Homo sapiens: one gene and its partner. The protein of the gene in region 1 interacts with the protein of each later gene in a pairwise test. Each region holds a gene or a part of one and is shown in the gene's direction. Other genes may lie near its edges.

What was found.
Region 2: the proteins of MYOT (region 1) and ST7 interact in a two-hybrid assay, tested with the Homo sapiens proteins (one study listed by BioGRID).

What each region holds. Positions count from the first base shown.
Region 1 is NC_000005.10:137,862,984-137,870,859, forward strand, and holds the start of MYOT (myotilin), read left to right. Parts: upstream 1-4,876; 5' UTR 4,877-4,970; intron 4,971-7,457; 5' UTR 7,458-7,668; coding exon 7,669-7,876. UniProt on the Homo sapiens protein: Component of a complex of multiple actin cross-linking proteins. Involved in the control of myofibril assembly and stability at the Z lines in muscle cells.
Region 2 is NC_000007.14:116,956,475-116,963,500, forward strand, and holds part of ST7 (suppressor of tumorigenicity 7 protein), read left to right. Parts: exon of another isoform or gene 1-249; intron 250-2,678; exon of another isoform or gene 2,679-3,343; intron 3,344-7,026. UniProt on the Homo sapiens protein: May act as a tumor suppressor.

The sequences.
Region 1 (7,876 bases):
TTGTGATACAGGTTTCTTCTTTATCCATGAAGAAAAACAGACCTTAGAATAAAAACAGAAATGTCCTTGTGTTTGGAAAACAAACCTACAAATGTAAAGATAATTCAGTTAAGTGAATTTTCCTACCAGGTTATGTTTAAAACAACACAATCCATCACCATTTGCTACTTCTCCACCCCCCAACACAAACCTCAAATCAAAATATTGTTTAAAAAATAACCTAGGGGCTTGGTGTGGTGGCTCATGCCTGTAATCCCAGCACTTTGGGGGGCCAAGGCGGGCAGATCACCTGAGGTCAGGAGTTCAAGACCAGCCTGACCAACATGGTGAAACACCATCTCTACTAAAAATACAAAAATTATCCGGGCATGGTGGCACATGCCTGTAATCCCAGCTACTTGGGAGGCTGAGGCATGAGAATCGCTTGAACCCAAGAGGCAGAGGTTGCAAGGAGCCAAGATCAGACTACTGCACTCCAGCCTGGGTGACAGAGCGTGCTGGGCTTGCCTTGGGAAGATGGCCAATACTGATTATCTAAATTTTTTCTAAGTACCTGTGTTTAATAGTGAGCCTTTGGGAGGCTAGGCGGGAGGATCATGAGGTCAGAAGTTTGAGAACAGCCTGACCAACATGGTGAAACCCCGTCTGTACTAAAAATACGAAAATTAGCCGAGCCAAGTGTCATGGCACACGCCTGTAATCCCAGCTATTCAGGAGGCTGAGGCAGGAGAATCACTTGAACCCGGGAGGCGGAGGTTGCAGTGAGCTGAGATTGCGCCACTGCACTCCAACCTGGGCAACAGAGCAAGACACTGTCTCAAACACACACACACACACACACACACACACACACAAATAGTGAGCCTAGGTCAGGCACAGTGGCTTACACCCATAATCCCAGCACTTTGGGAGCCTGAGGTGGGCGGATTGCTTGAGCCCAGAAGTTCTAGACCAGCCTGGGCAACATAGTGAGACCCCATCTCTACAAAAATATGCAAAAATTAGCTGGGTGTGGTGGCTCATGTCTGTAGTCTCAGCTACTTGGGATGCTGAAGTGGGAGGATGGCTTGAGCTGGGGAGGTCAGGGCTGTAAGTGAGCTGTGATCTCACCACTGCACTCCAGCCTGGAAGGCAGAGCAAGACCCTGTCTTTAAAAAAAAAAAAAAAAGAAAGAAAAAAAAAGTGAGCCTTTAAAGCTTTAAAAGGCACGGTTGCTCACACATGTAATTCCAACACTTCGGGACGCTGTGGCAGGAGGATCACTTGAGCATAGGAGTTTGAGGCTGCAACAGATATGAATCATGCCACTGCACTTCAACCTGGGAGTCCAAGTGGGACCCCATCTCAAAAACAAAAATAAGCAAATAAATAAAACTTTAAAAGACCTTGAATTTATAAGTTAGTATCTTTCATAACACATGACCATCTTCATTAGTAAAATCACCTATGGAGAAAACTATTGGGTAAATATTCCATAAAAGTTAACAAGTTTTTATTGAGTGTCTACTATGAGCCACACTGCGTTAGGCCAAGATAAATAAGTAGTAAACAGTCCCTCTCTCAGAAACATTTTAATCTAGTTAAGGAGATAAACCTACAGAATGTCCATTATATGACTTCCCATTTCACTTGAGTCTCTCATCAATCGTCTGATTTAGGTTGGTAAACCTTGTACTACTCTTTTTTTTTTTTTTTTTGTGAGTCTGGGTTACAAGTCTTGCTGTGTCACCCAGGCTGGAGTGCAGTGGTGTGATCATGGTTCACTGCAGCCTCAAAATCCTGGGCTCAAGCGATTTTCCCACCTCAGCCTCCCATGTAGCTGGGACTACAGAAATGCGCCAACATGCCTAGCCTCATTTTTCGATTAGTTATTAAAGCTCAAAGTTTAAGCAACTTGTTTAAGGCTACACAGCATGTATGTGGTGGAGTGGGCCCTCACACTCAGGTCTCCAAAAACAGATAACAAAAGGTAAATATGTCTAGAAAGTTGTAGAGCATTAGCCAAATTAATGTTATCATTTGTATTCTTTAACTCCAAACCCGATGGATTCCATTATTATTTCTTGCTTGAGAATAATATAAGATTGAGTCAAATGTTAGACTGGATATTTCAAATTACAAATGCTACAATGGGATTCCCTTTCATTATATATCTATGCAGAACTTTAATAACCACAGTGAATTTGTGTGAACTAAAATAAAACTTTCTTCACTCCTTAGTTCTTCCATCCTCAATGTGACGTTTTCCTTTTCAGTTGATATAGCAGAAATGAGTTTCATCACACACATCTGACCTCCGAATTTAAAAGAAGTTCACAGCACCATTTTTTTTTTACAATGGCATATATATCTTATATTTTTGAAAGACAAGAGCTATATATGAAGAGGGAAGAATGAGAGACAGTTAAATAGCTACCCTGTTTCTGAAACTGACGATAGACAAGGAATCCCTTAACATGTAACAGGAAAGGTTTCAGTGAGATAGTAGGAAGTTACTATATTTTGTAAGGCATTTGAATAATTTACTGAAGGCCCTTACTGATAATTTAGAAAAAGAAATGGAAAAGGTTGTCTTTGTGAGCAGGTTGTAGTAAAAGTTCACCCATCTGGCATTGTAATAATTCCAGTCTTAAGAGTCTATGATTTTTCTCAAATAGGCAATTAAACCATTCAAATAGCTATATTTGTGAGGAAACAAACCACCATTCAAAAAAGCAAATCAAACATTAAAAGGCAGGAACAAACAGATTTACAGTAGATTATTAATATAGCCCCTGACTACTGAGAATGGTATCATAAAAGAGGACCTACTTACCTTTCCTAAATCATCCCTTGATCCCATTATAGCAAAAACTTTAGCCTTGACGTACCATGAAGGCTATCACATGTAACACACGGTAACCTGGGTTGTATCTTACAAAGACCTAGAGAAGAGGCAAAGCTTGAAAGACAAAGAGTAAGCAGAACTAAATTCTTCCTCGAGTGTAGTATGCTTAGAACCTGCTGTAGGCAAAATTGGGAATTTAGCAGGTTGTCCTGGATGTCTTCCCTACTTGGCTGGTGAGGTATACCTCAAACTTTTAGTGCAGAGAGACCTCAAATCTATTATTTCCTTTTCCATGCCCTAATCAAACCCTGTTCTCCAGCAGAACCAAATGTCAGTCACATATACCACATTTAAAATTGCTTAGAATAGATAGGCTGGGCATGTGGTTTATGCCTATAATTCCAGTGCTTTGAGAAGCCGACGTGGAGGATCGCTTGAGGCAAGGAGTTTGAGACCAGCTTGGGCAACATAGCGAAACTCTGTCTGTCCAAAAAATTTTAAAATTAGCTGGGTATAGTGCTGCATGCCTATAGCCCTAGCTACTTGAAAGTCTGCAGAGGAAGGATCTCTTGAGCCCAGGAGTTTGAGGCTGCAGTGAGTTCTGATCATATCACTGCACTCCAGCCTGGGTGACAGAGTAAGACCCTGTCTCTAAAAAAAAACTAATAATAAAATAAAATGCTTGAAGGAGTGTCTTACTCATAATAAATGCTATATATTGGCTATTATTACTTTTATCCTATCACTTGCATTTGTATTTTAAGTCTCTCTAATTTAGATGGAAAGGTTTTGTCTGTATTACTGGAATTTGAAATATCAGTGAACAGATGTTGAAGAATATTTTGGGAGACTCCTGAAATAAGACTTTGTAGGCAACCACCTACTCACCAAGTCTAGCATGCTTTTTCTACTAAGGGCTGCACGCCCAGGCAGAAATTATCAAGCTTTCTTTGAACACCAAAGAAAGGTACACCTACTTGGCCAGCTGTGAAGGATTTTATATGGCTCATATGTGCTCAAACATCTATTTGCTGGATTCTAATATACATGTTAATTCAATCAAGATTGGGGTATCTACCCATGAGGGAGGGGAACTGAAGCCACCCCATGGAGATAATTCTACTCCCTTGGCCCAATCCTCATGCCACCTACCCTACTTCACCACATTTGCTGATTCGACATTTTATTCTTCTGCAATTATTTACTTCCCTGCACAAAAATGGAAATCTAAATACCATGATGGTCTCTGTGACAAAAAGTGAAAGGAAACTAACTGTTAGGAATAAAGGGAGATGAACATGCATTGACAGCTCTAATTATATAGATTGCTTATTTGTTTGGTTGTTTCTTAAGTGTTTCAAAACTCTTTCAGAATAAAAGTACTAGGCAAAAGGGGCATATGCCATACAGATTCAGAAAACTTGCTCAAGAAACACCATCATGTTTTTCCACCTCCCTACCTTCCCAGTGACATGTCACTATGACCTCGGTCTCCTGCTTTGCCCAGACTGCCCTCCACCTCGGAACAAACTGCTAGTACTGAGAGACCTCAAATCTATTATTGAATCCTACTCTCATTAGGCAAAAGAAAAAAGACTTCAGATGAAGAATTATGCAATACAAATCAATTGGGAGCCCATCTATCACTGGTCTTATTCCTGGAGAAGTCTTAGTATAATAGATAGAAGAACTCCACTCTTGAAATATTATTTTCCCTTTAGTCCTCTCTCTTAAACTGGGAAAATTCAAAGTCCCCACCATAATAAAGAAATAAGAGGGTTTTTTTTCTATTTTTCCCATTTCCCTATTCACTGCCCTTCCCTCACATGAGCTTGCTAAAGTTCATAGTCAAAATTCACGTCTGAAATAAAGAGGCTTGCAAAAGAAGCTCATGTAATCCCACTCCTTAAATACCACTAAGACACGTGAGATATTGTTTAGATTGTGGACTCTTACTTTGACATGCCAGCATAGGTAGATGGACAGGCAAGCACATCAGATGTCACTGTTTGGCAGCTGATAAAAGTCAGTGGTGCTATAATACTAAGCACAGAGCCACTAGATTAGTCTGTGAGGGAAGGAGATGCCTCTTCCTTCCCTTCAATAGTGGGTTAAACCCAGCTGGCACCCTCTGGAACTACGGGTAAGTCCCTTCTTTATTCCTACTACACTTTTAGGTCTTGTTTTTGTTTTTTGTCCAAATCAGATGAGTGTATACAAAGATGATTTTCAGATAAAAAGTTTGAAAGCCACAACATTATAATGGTATTACACAAAAATTTAAAGAGAAAGCGACTCATTCATTTCATTGAGACTGGAAGGCATTATACAAATGATAGAAGGAAAGATAGCTGTGTGTCATTATTTTTAAATCACCATTTTTCCTTGAAAAGGGACACTTGATCTGATGTAATTGTGGTGATGTCTTATGAACGCAACATATCCTCTATCAGTCTTCTGTGCAAGTCTATGCTATATTAGAGACAGGAAAAAAATGTTAAGATTTTTTAAAAAGGAGACTGAATAGTACTTTATTTATAAAAATCTTTGAAATTCATTTAACATTATTTGGAATAAAATGACCCTGTCATATAACAGAATCTATTATAGAATTAAATTGTTGAACAGTAACTACAAACATAAAGAAAATACAGGATCACCTGCGTAAATGTCTGCATAAAATTTTGACACATGGATAAAATGAAACTTATGAAATAACATATTTTTAATTGGGCTTTTAAAAATATCACTAATTATTAACAATGTAGGCCAATATCAACATGTACAAGACAGTTGCCATTCTGAAAATATATGTAAAGAAAAAAAGAGAACTGTTTCTGGAAAATATCTACTATTTCATAAGCGGTTTATTCCTTGCTATCTGAAATGAGTCTCAATAATGTACCTGCCCAGAAAGAAATTTAGGAATCAAACTCTGGATTCAATTCTGCAACAGACTGAATAAACCGATAACTACAAAACTACTTGCCTTGAAATAGACTTTTTTTTTAGATCTACTCAAGGCCCTCCTTCAGGATGTTTTTCCCCAACAATTTAAATGCCTAAAGTAGTTCATTTCTAAAATGCATTCTAGTTTAATGTATTTGTGTTCATAAACTTGAAATTAAGGAATATTTAACTTTTTAAGTATTCTTTCTCAATAGCGTCTTTCTCTTGGCTGTTTAGTTGCATTTCTGTTTTTTCCTAAAATTGCTAGTTTTAATTTAACTCTAAACTACATAGGCAACTTTGAAATACTATTTTTTGAAGGTATCCTATTATTTAGGATGAAACTCTTTGGTCTGGAAAAGTTTTATTAACATTTTATCCAAGACAGTAACTAAAATAATTAGAAGACTTCGTTTCAATGATGACAAACAATTTGGTTAATTTTTCAGTTAAAAGTTTGATTTGTCATTATCTCAGTATTGGCTTATACCAGATGAAACAAAATAGGCAAATGTATTTTGAATCAATTTATCTGATATTTTCAATGAAAACAGGATTAGTGTGAAAACAATTTATAGGACTAGTCTTTGTGTGTAATGTCTATATATAGTCCCGCTTAGGTTTACCATACTAATGGAAAAAAAATCAGAGACAAATATAATCCTTCAAGGTTGATTTTCATGGCAAATGTTTCATCTGAGAAAAAATGAGGATGTACTGTAGGAAGGCAGGAGGCCCACTACAGAGCTAAGTAGGAGGAATGGCACCTGTCTTTTCTTGGTAAGGTATAGACTAGTTTCATATGTGTCTTATTTACTTCTATGCTTCCTGTTTGCCATTTGAAAAGAAAAAGTAAAAGAGCTAAAGCAATTTCAAAATTAGTCTGAGATCTCCAAAGGTGTGGCAAAAAAAAGAAAAAAAAGACCAAAAAACAAAATTAGTCTAAAATACATACTAAACAAATAATAAAAAGTAAAACTCTAGATAATTAAAAGAACATCAAGACCAACAACTAGGAAGTATAATCTAAAAATAACAGAATTATAAGGTATGATTCTGTTTAAAAATACATAATAAAAACAGAAAAATGTATAAGTGGCTCTGGAATGCAGCCTGTAACATATGTTCTACACAAACATATACACACAGTCACTCCTTAATTAATATCTAGTTTAGTAATATGGTCAATTTGGAATCAAGGAGAGAAAAAGAAGCAGTGAATTGTAAGGTTAAAAAGCAATCCACTCAGCTGGGTGCGGGGGCTCATACCTGTAACTCCAGCACCAAGGGGGGCTGAGGCGGGAGGATTGCTTGCAGCTAAGAGTTTAAGACTAGTCTAGGCAACATAGTGAAACCCTGTCTCTACTAAAAAAAAAAAAAAAAAAGAAAGAAAGAAAAAAAGAAAAATTAGCCAGGCGTGGTGGCTTATATGTGTAGTCCTTACTCTGGAGGGTGCAGTGGAAGGATCGCTTGTGCCCAGGAGTTGGAGGGGCTACAGTGAGCTATGTTCGCCTGGGCGATTAAGCAAGACACACACACACACACACACACACACACACACACACACAAAAGGAAGGAAGGAAAGAAAGGAAAAGAAAAAGCACATCAGATCTGAAAGATGTCAAATAAACAATGTTATTGTTTAAGCAAATATTGTAACAATTATTTTCTCCTTTTGAAGGAACAATATTCTTCAAGAGAAGGTCACTCTACCAAAGCCAGGAGCACAGTATTCTCAGGATCTCAACAAGGAAGAGCAGACCAAGGTTGCTTCTGATTCCTTACAACCTTCCGTAATTCCAGGCTTGTGGCCCCAAATTCAGGGCCCCACCCTTCCAGGAACAAATCATTATAGTAATAATTTGCCTTCATCTTCCATATACCAACTAAGCATGTTTAACTACGAACGTCCAAAACACTTCATCCAGTCCCAAAACCCATGTGGCTCCAGATTGCAGCCTCCTGGACCAGAAACCTCCAGCTTCTCTAGCCAGACCAAACAGTCTTCCATTATCATCCAGCCCCGCCAGTGTACAGAGCAAAGATTTTCTGCCTCCTCAACACTGAGCTCTCACATCACCATGTCCTCCTCTGCTTTCC
Region 2 (7,026 bases), on another chromosome or scaffold:
TTACTGAATCTGGAGCTGCTTTTAGGGAGTTGCAGATGGCGCAGGCCTCCCTTCCTCCTCAAGGAAGCCAAAGACACCATCACAATCAGGCAGCCAGGAGCCAGGGCTTCCATAGGCCCAGCTCTGTACCTGTAGGGGGATGGAATCTGCTAAAAGTGTTCTGGAGTCATTCTTGGATATCTGCTTGGTATCTTCTCAATATCTTGACCATCTGTGACAATTTTAATCCTCATTTGATCATATTTTATGGTAAATGAGCTTAACTCGATTTTTTTTTAATTTAGATGCCTCCTAATGTACTATAACAGGTGCTATGATAAGAAAGATGAATGAGTTTGTAAAACCCAGGGTAAATAAGGAGTTTACTACAAGAATACAACTTCCCATATGCAAGATGGGGCTGGGCAAGGCTGTGAGAGCTTCTCTTGAATTGAGCCTAAGAGGATGAGGAGAATTCCATGATTGAGGACTCAGAGGTGGACCTCCCAAACAAAGGGACAAAGTTGTGAAAGTGCAGGTCAGATTCAGAGAAGAGCTAATCGTGGAATTTAATTTAAAATAATAAAAGAAAAGGACTTTGATGAACAACCATACCGTTTTTAGCTCTTACATCGTGTAGTTTTCCAAGTAAAAATGCTTTGAATGCTGTTTTTGAGGTATACTACTTCCCTACTCCCACCAGCTTGGCTCGTGTGACCTTCGTTGCATTGAGCCAGTGCCATTTAGGGTAGGGATATAGTTCAAAGAATTCCACAGTATTCTCTTAGACCATACAGAGAAACCTTAACATTGGCAATCACATCTTGTAATGAAAATGAATTTTAAAAAAGAAAGGGGAGAAAACGAACATAATAGGAATAGTACATAGTGGCTAGCTTTGATAATAGTTTTTTTTTTTGTTTGTTTTTTAAGAGAGTCTTAGTATGTTACCTAGGTTGGGCTTGAACTCCTGGGCTTAAGGGATCCTCCCACCTCAGCCTCCCTAGTAGCGAGTACTACAGGTGTGTGCCACCATGCCCAGCTGCTGGTAACTGATTTTTGAGGCTCTGCTCTTGATTTGGATACAATAGTGTTAAAATAGTTTTATGATTTACTGAAAATAGAATGAAATTTTAACAAGGTTTTTAAAAGACCCCAAATAATATTACTTGTCAGTTTTCAAGTGAATTAATATCATAAAGCAATACTTTTCCAAAGGGCAGAAAATTAATTGTAGATTGGCACAGTCATGCAGGATATTATTAAAATAGGTGAGTCTTAAAAAATAGTACCATAACTTATACAGTGGTGTTGATGGCACTTTCTCATCTACCCTATGTTATAAAGTTTTTTGCTGCTGAATTTAAACACCTTTTCCTAAAACGGGCAACTTTGCTGTTTTTGCAAAAAGCAGCATAAGTGATTTTCCAATTCTTTTTCTATTTGCTGAAAAGCAAGTTTTCAAAGATCTTTGAAATCCGTTTTCATTCCTTTTGGAAAACAAATGTAATAGCCTGATCTAGGCTTAAAGTTATTTATTTACTTATGTTTGAGACAAGGTTTCACTCTGTCACCCAGGCTGGAGTGCAGTGGTGCAGTCACAGCTCACTGCAGCCTCAACCTGCAGGCTCAAGCAATCCTCCTGTCTCAGCCTGCCACCTCAGTCTTAGTAGCTGAGACTACAGGTGCACACCACAGTGCGTGGCTAATTTTTTTTTTTTTTTTTTTTTTTTGTAGAGACAGGGTCCCCTGTGTTCTTGAACTCCTGGGCTCAAGCAGTCCTACTGCCTCCACCTCCCAAAGTGCTGGGATTCCAGGTGTGAGCCACCGTGCCTGGTCAAGTTATTTAGAAGACTTTTTTTTGTGTTAATTAAGCTCATGAATACAGATGTAAAACTCTTATATTGTTGACGTGATATAGAACTTAGGCTGCAGCTCAGTTTTGGCATTTTTTCATGTTGAGAATTTTTGCTCTAAATTTACTTAACATTTAGATTTTAATTTACTTAAAATTTACATAAAATTGGATTTCCCTTCTAGAGGGTCTGGTTGCAGTTTACATAGGTCTTTTGCCCCTGTTGTGCCTGTTGTCTAAAATGTTCTTCCCTATCTGTAAATCCCACCCATCTATCAAGGACCAGCTGGCATGCTGCCTTCTGATCCTTTCAGCTGCAGAAAAGACAGGCTTACCTTGGAGATATTGCAAGTTTGGTTCCCGGCCACTGCAATAAAGTGAGTCCCATGAAATTTTTGGTTTCCCAGTGCATATAAAAGTTATAGTCACACTATATTGTATTATATTAAGAGTGCAGTAGCATTATATCTAAAAGACCAATGTATATACCTTAATTTAAAAATCCTTTATTGCTAAAAAAAAAAATGCTATCTGAGCCTCAGGAAGTCATAATCTTTTTGCTGGTAGAGAGTCTTGCCTTGATGTTTATGGCTGCTGACTGATCAGGGTGCTGGTTGTTAAAGGTTGGGGTAGCTGTGGCAATTTCTTCAAATAAGACAACCGTAAAGTTTGCCACATGGATTGGTTTTCCTTTCCAGAGAAAGATTTCTCTGTATCATGTGATGCTGTCTGATAGCATTTTACCCACAGTAGGACTTTCAGAATTGGAGTCAATTTTATCACCCTGCCACGGCTTTATCAATGAAGTTTATGTAATATTCTAAATCCTTTGTTGTCATTTCAGCAATGTTCACAGCATCTTCACCAGGAGTAGATTCTATCTCAAAACACTTTCTTTGCTCATCAAAAGAAACAGCTCTTTATCCGTTCAAGTTTTACAAGGAATTACAACAATTCAGTCACATCTTAAAGCTTCAGTTCTAATTCTAGTTATTTTGCTGTTTATGGCATGCCTGCAGTTACTTTATCTTATATGAATTATGGTATATGTGTGTGATATATGTGGGTCAGTGTTTGTGTATATATGCATCTTTTTTTGTATATGTATGTTTTATTACTTCTTCTAGATTCTAGTTCTTCATCTTCCAGTGTTAATTCCTTGTACAAAGTAGGTCCTTATCATTCACTGGATGAATGAATATCCAAGTTACGGTGTATTTAGTGAGCTGGGATTGGAACAATACAATTGATCAAATGCATTACTGAGTATGTGCCCCATCTAAGTTTGCAGCTTTAGATTGTGGTCAGAGGCTGTTACAAGATCTTATATATTCTATGATGGGCCATATGCATCTAAAGCATGGTGGTTCAGTTTATGAATATATAAAAGGACAATTTTTTGATTAATGTCAGCTTTGAGTTTAGAATGTATCCCAGACATCTTAGTTGCCCTTAATTATTTTTGGAGATATTTTTCTCAGCCATTAATAAAGCAATCCGAATGATGCATTTTTCTCTGAGCTTGAGTTTTTGTATATGTAAAATAATGGCTTTACATTCATTAAGTTTCCTTCTAGCTCTGGGATTCTGTGTCTTACGATGAATTTCATTGAGTGCAAAGTGTAGCACCAAGATAATACATGGACTTAATGAGTATACATGTTTTTTACAGTTTGGACTCTTAATACTTAGTGAATACAAGTCCAGATTTTGTATGACTTCCTGCAGTGGCTTCCATTGCATTGAAAATACAATCTAAGTGTATTACCTTCATTTACAAAGTTTGATGCTATGGCTCTTTCTTACCCCTCAAATCTGAACTTCCACCTCTCTTTTTCTAGATCACCACCCTCCAAATACGCTGGGATTCTTTTTTTTTTGTTTTGTTTTTTTGTTTTTAAGACAGAGTCTCGCTCTGTTGCCCAGGCTGGAGTGCAGGGACGGGATCTCAGCTGACTGCAACCTCTGCCTCCTGGGTTCAGGTGATTCTCATGCCTCACCCTCCCAAGTAGCTGGGATTACAGGTGCATGCCATCATGTCCGGCTAAGTTTTGTATTTTTAGTAGAGACAGAGTTCGCCATCTTGTCCAGACTGGTCTCAAACTTCAGGCCTCTAGTGATCTGTCCCCCTCGGCCTCCCAGAGTGCTGGAATTCTAGGCGTGAGCCACTGCAGACACATAAAATTGTGCTGAAGTATTTCTAATCACTTCGAGTTACAATTCTGTTAAGTTTCATTTTGCCTGCCAATATTATTCTGAAAAATTTCCCAACCAAATCTTTCTTGTACTACTGTGTCATTGCTCACAGACAATTTTTTTCCACATTGGTAGAACCCTGAACTCCATTCATACAGATAATATGAGGTACTTAACTTGTACATTTGTTTAAGTTCCTTATTGATGCTGGATATTAGATCTTTGTCAGATGCAAAGTTTCCAAAAATTGTCTCCATTCTGTAGGTTTTCTGTTGACTCTGTTGATAGTTTCTGTTGCTGTGCAGAGGCTCTTTAGTTTAGATTTTATTTGTCAATTTTTGCTTTTATTGTAGTTGCTTTTGGTGTCTTCATCATGAAATCTTTGCCCATTCCTGTGTCCTGAATGGTATTATGTAGGTTGTGTTGCAGGGTTTTTATAGTTTTTGGTTTTACATTTAAGTCTCTAATCCATCTTCAGTTGTATATGGTGTAAAGAAGGGGTCCACTTTCAATCTTTTGCATATGGCTAGCCAGATATCCCAGCACCATTTATTGAATAGGCAATCCTTCTCCCATTGCTTGTTTTGTCAGATTTGTCGAAGATCAGATAGTTGTAGGTGTGCAGCATTATTTCTGGGTTCTCTGTTCTGTTCCATTGGTCTATGTGTCTGTTTTTGTACCAGTATCATGCTGTTTTGGTTACTGTAGCCCTGTAGTGTAGTTTGAAGATGAGTAGCGAGTAGCATGATGCCTCCAGCTTTGTTCTTTTGCTTAGGATTGCTTTGGCTATTTGGGCTATTTTTTGGTTCCATATGAATTTTGAAACAGTTTTTTCTAATTCTGTGATGAATGTCAGTGGTAGTTTAATAGGAATATCATTGAAATTGTAAATTGCTTTGGGCAGTATGGGCATTTTAATGATATTGATTCTTCCTATCCGTGAGCATGGGATGTTTTTCCATTTGCTTGTGTCATCTCTGATCTCTTTGAGCAGTGTTTTATAGTTCTTCGTGTAGTGATCCTTCACCTCCATGGTTAGCTGTATTCCTACGTGTGTGTGTGTGTGTGTGTGTGTGTGTGTGTGTGTGTGGTGGGGGGCAATTGTGAATAGGTCTGCATTCCTGGTTTGGCTCTTGGCCTGACTGTTGTTGGTGTATAGGAATGTTAGTGATTTTTGCACATTGATTTTATATCCTGAGACTTTGCTAAAGTTGTTTATTAGCTTAAGGAGCTTTTGGGCTGAGACTATGGGGTTTTCTTTCTTTTTTTTTTTTAATTTTACTTTAAGTTCTGGGATACAAGTGCAGAATGTGTAGGTTTGTTATGTAGGTATACGTGTGCCATGGTGGTTTGCTGCACCTATCAACCCGTCATCTAGGTTTTAACCCCTGCATGCATTAGCTATTTCTTCTAATGTTCTCCCTCCCCTCACCCCCCCACCCCCTGACTGGCCCTGGTGTGTGGTGTTCCTCTCCCTGTGTCCATGTGTTCTCATTGTTCAACTCTGACTTATGAGTGAGAACATGCAGTGTTTGGTTTTCTGTTCCTGTGTTAGTTTGCTGAGGATGGTGGCTTACAGCTTCATCCATGTCCCTGCAAAGGAGATGATCTCATTCCTTTTTTATGACTGTATAGTATTCCATGGTGTACGTGTACCACATTTTCTTTATCCAGTCTATCATTGATGGGCATTTGGGTTGGTTCCATGTCTTTGCTATTGTACATGGTGCTGCAATAAACATATGTGTACATGTGTCTTTATAGTAGGATGACTTATATTCTTTGGGTATATACCTAGTAATGGGATTGCTTGGTTAAATGGTATTATTTCTAGTTCTAGATCCTTGAGGAATCGCCACACTGTCTTCCACAAAGGTTGAACTAATTTACATCCCACCAACAGTGTAAAGGCGTTCCTGTTTCTTCACAGCCTCACCAGCATCTATGGTTTCCTGACGTTTTAATAATCACCATTCTGACTGGTGTGAGATGGTATCTCATTGTGGTTTTGATTTGCATTTCTGTAATGATCAGTGATGGTGAGCTTTTTTCTATGTTTGTTGGCCACATAAATGTCTTCTTTTGAGAAGTGTCTGTTCATATCCTTTGCCTACTTTTTAATGGGGCTGTTTGATTTTTTCTTGTAAATTTGTTTAAGTTCCTTGTAGATTCTGGATATTAGACTTGGGCAGATGGGTAGATTGCAAACATTTTCTCCCATTCTGTAGGTTGCCTGTTCACTCTGATGATAGTTTCTTTTGCTGTGCAGAAGCTCTTTAATTATGTGACTCTGGGGTTTTCTAGATATAGGATCATGTCGTCTGCAAACAGGGGTAGTTGACTTTCTCTCTTCCTATTTGGATGTCTGGGCATTCTATGAATATTTGTGTGGTTGAGATAGTTACTGACTTTGGCCTTACAGCTTGATGATAGACTTGGTCCCTTGACTAGAATGCAATCTTCATATGAGACTGTAAAATGAATAAGTGCTTTGTAGGCTGTAAAATACTATTTAAATCTGAGGCATTATAGTAGGTCTTTTCCTCAGAAGGCTATATTCTATATTCTATAGGCTTGGCTCTCACAGTGAAATGACACATTAAACTATATAATAGAATCTTTTTTATCCTCGATATTCTTTCTAAAACTGCACCAAGCAAGATAATGGGTTATTGGATTGTTTGAAACCACACTACTGTCTGTTTGTTGTAAATGTGGAATAATATCTCTCAACATCATTATTGTATTTGAGATGTTGTTGTAAAGATATCTGTAAAGGGCTTTGGATTTTCCAGAAGAGAGAACTTGTAATGAAACTCATTTTTCTTGTTACAGTGGGGCAAGACAGTTGCTGATGTGTTACCATTACCCATCATTTAAAACTAGCAGGCATTCCTATACTACCTACTGTGCTAAAATAAGGAACTGACAGGCCCAGTTAGTTAGCTGTAGCAGTATTTTATGTTGCTGTGGCTGTGGTATCACTGTTTAATTGC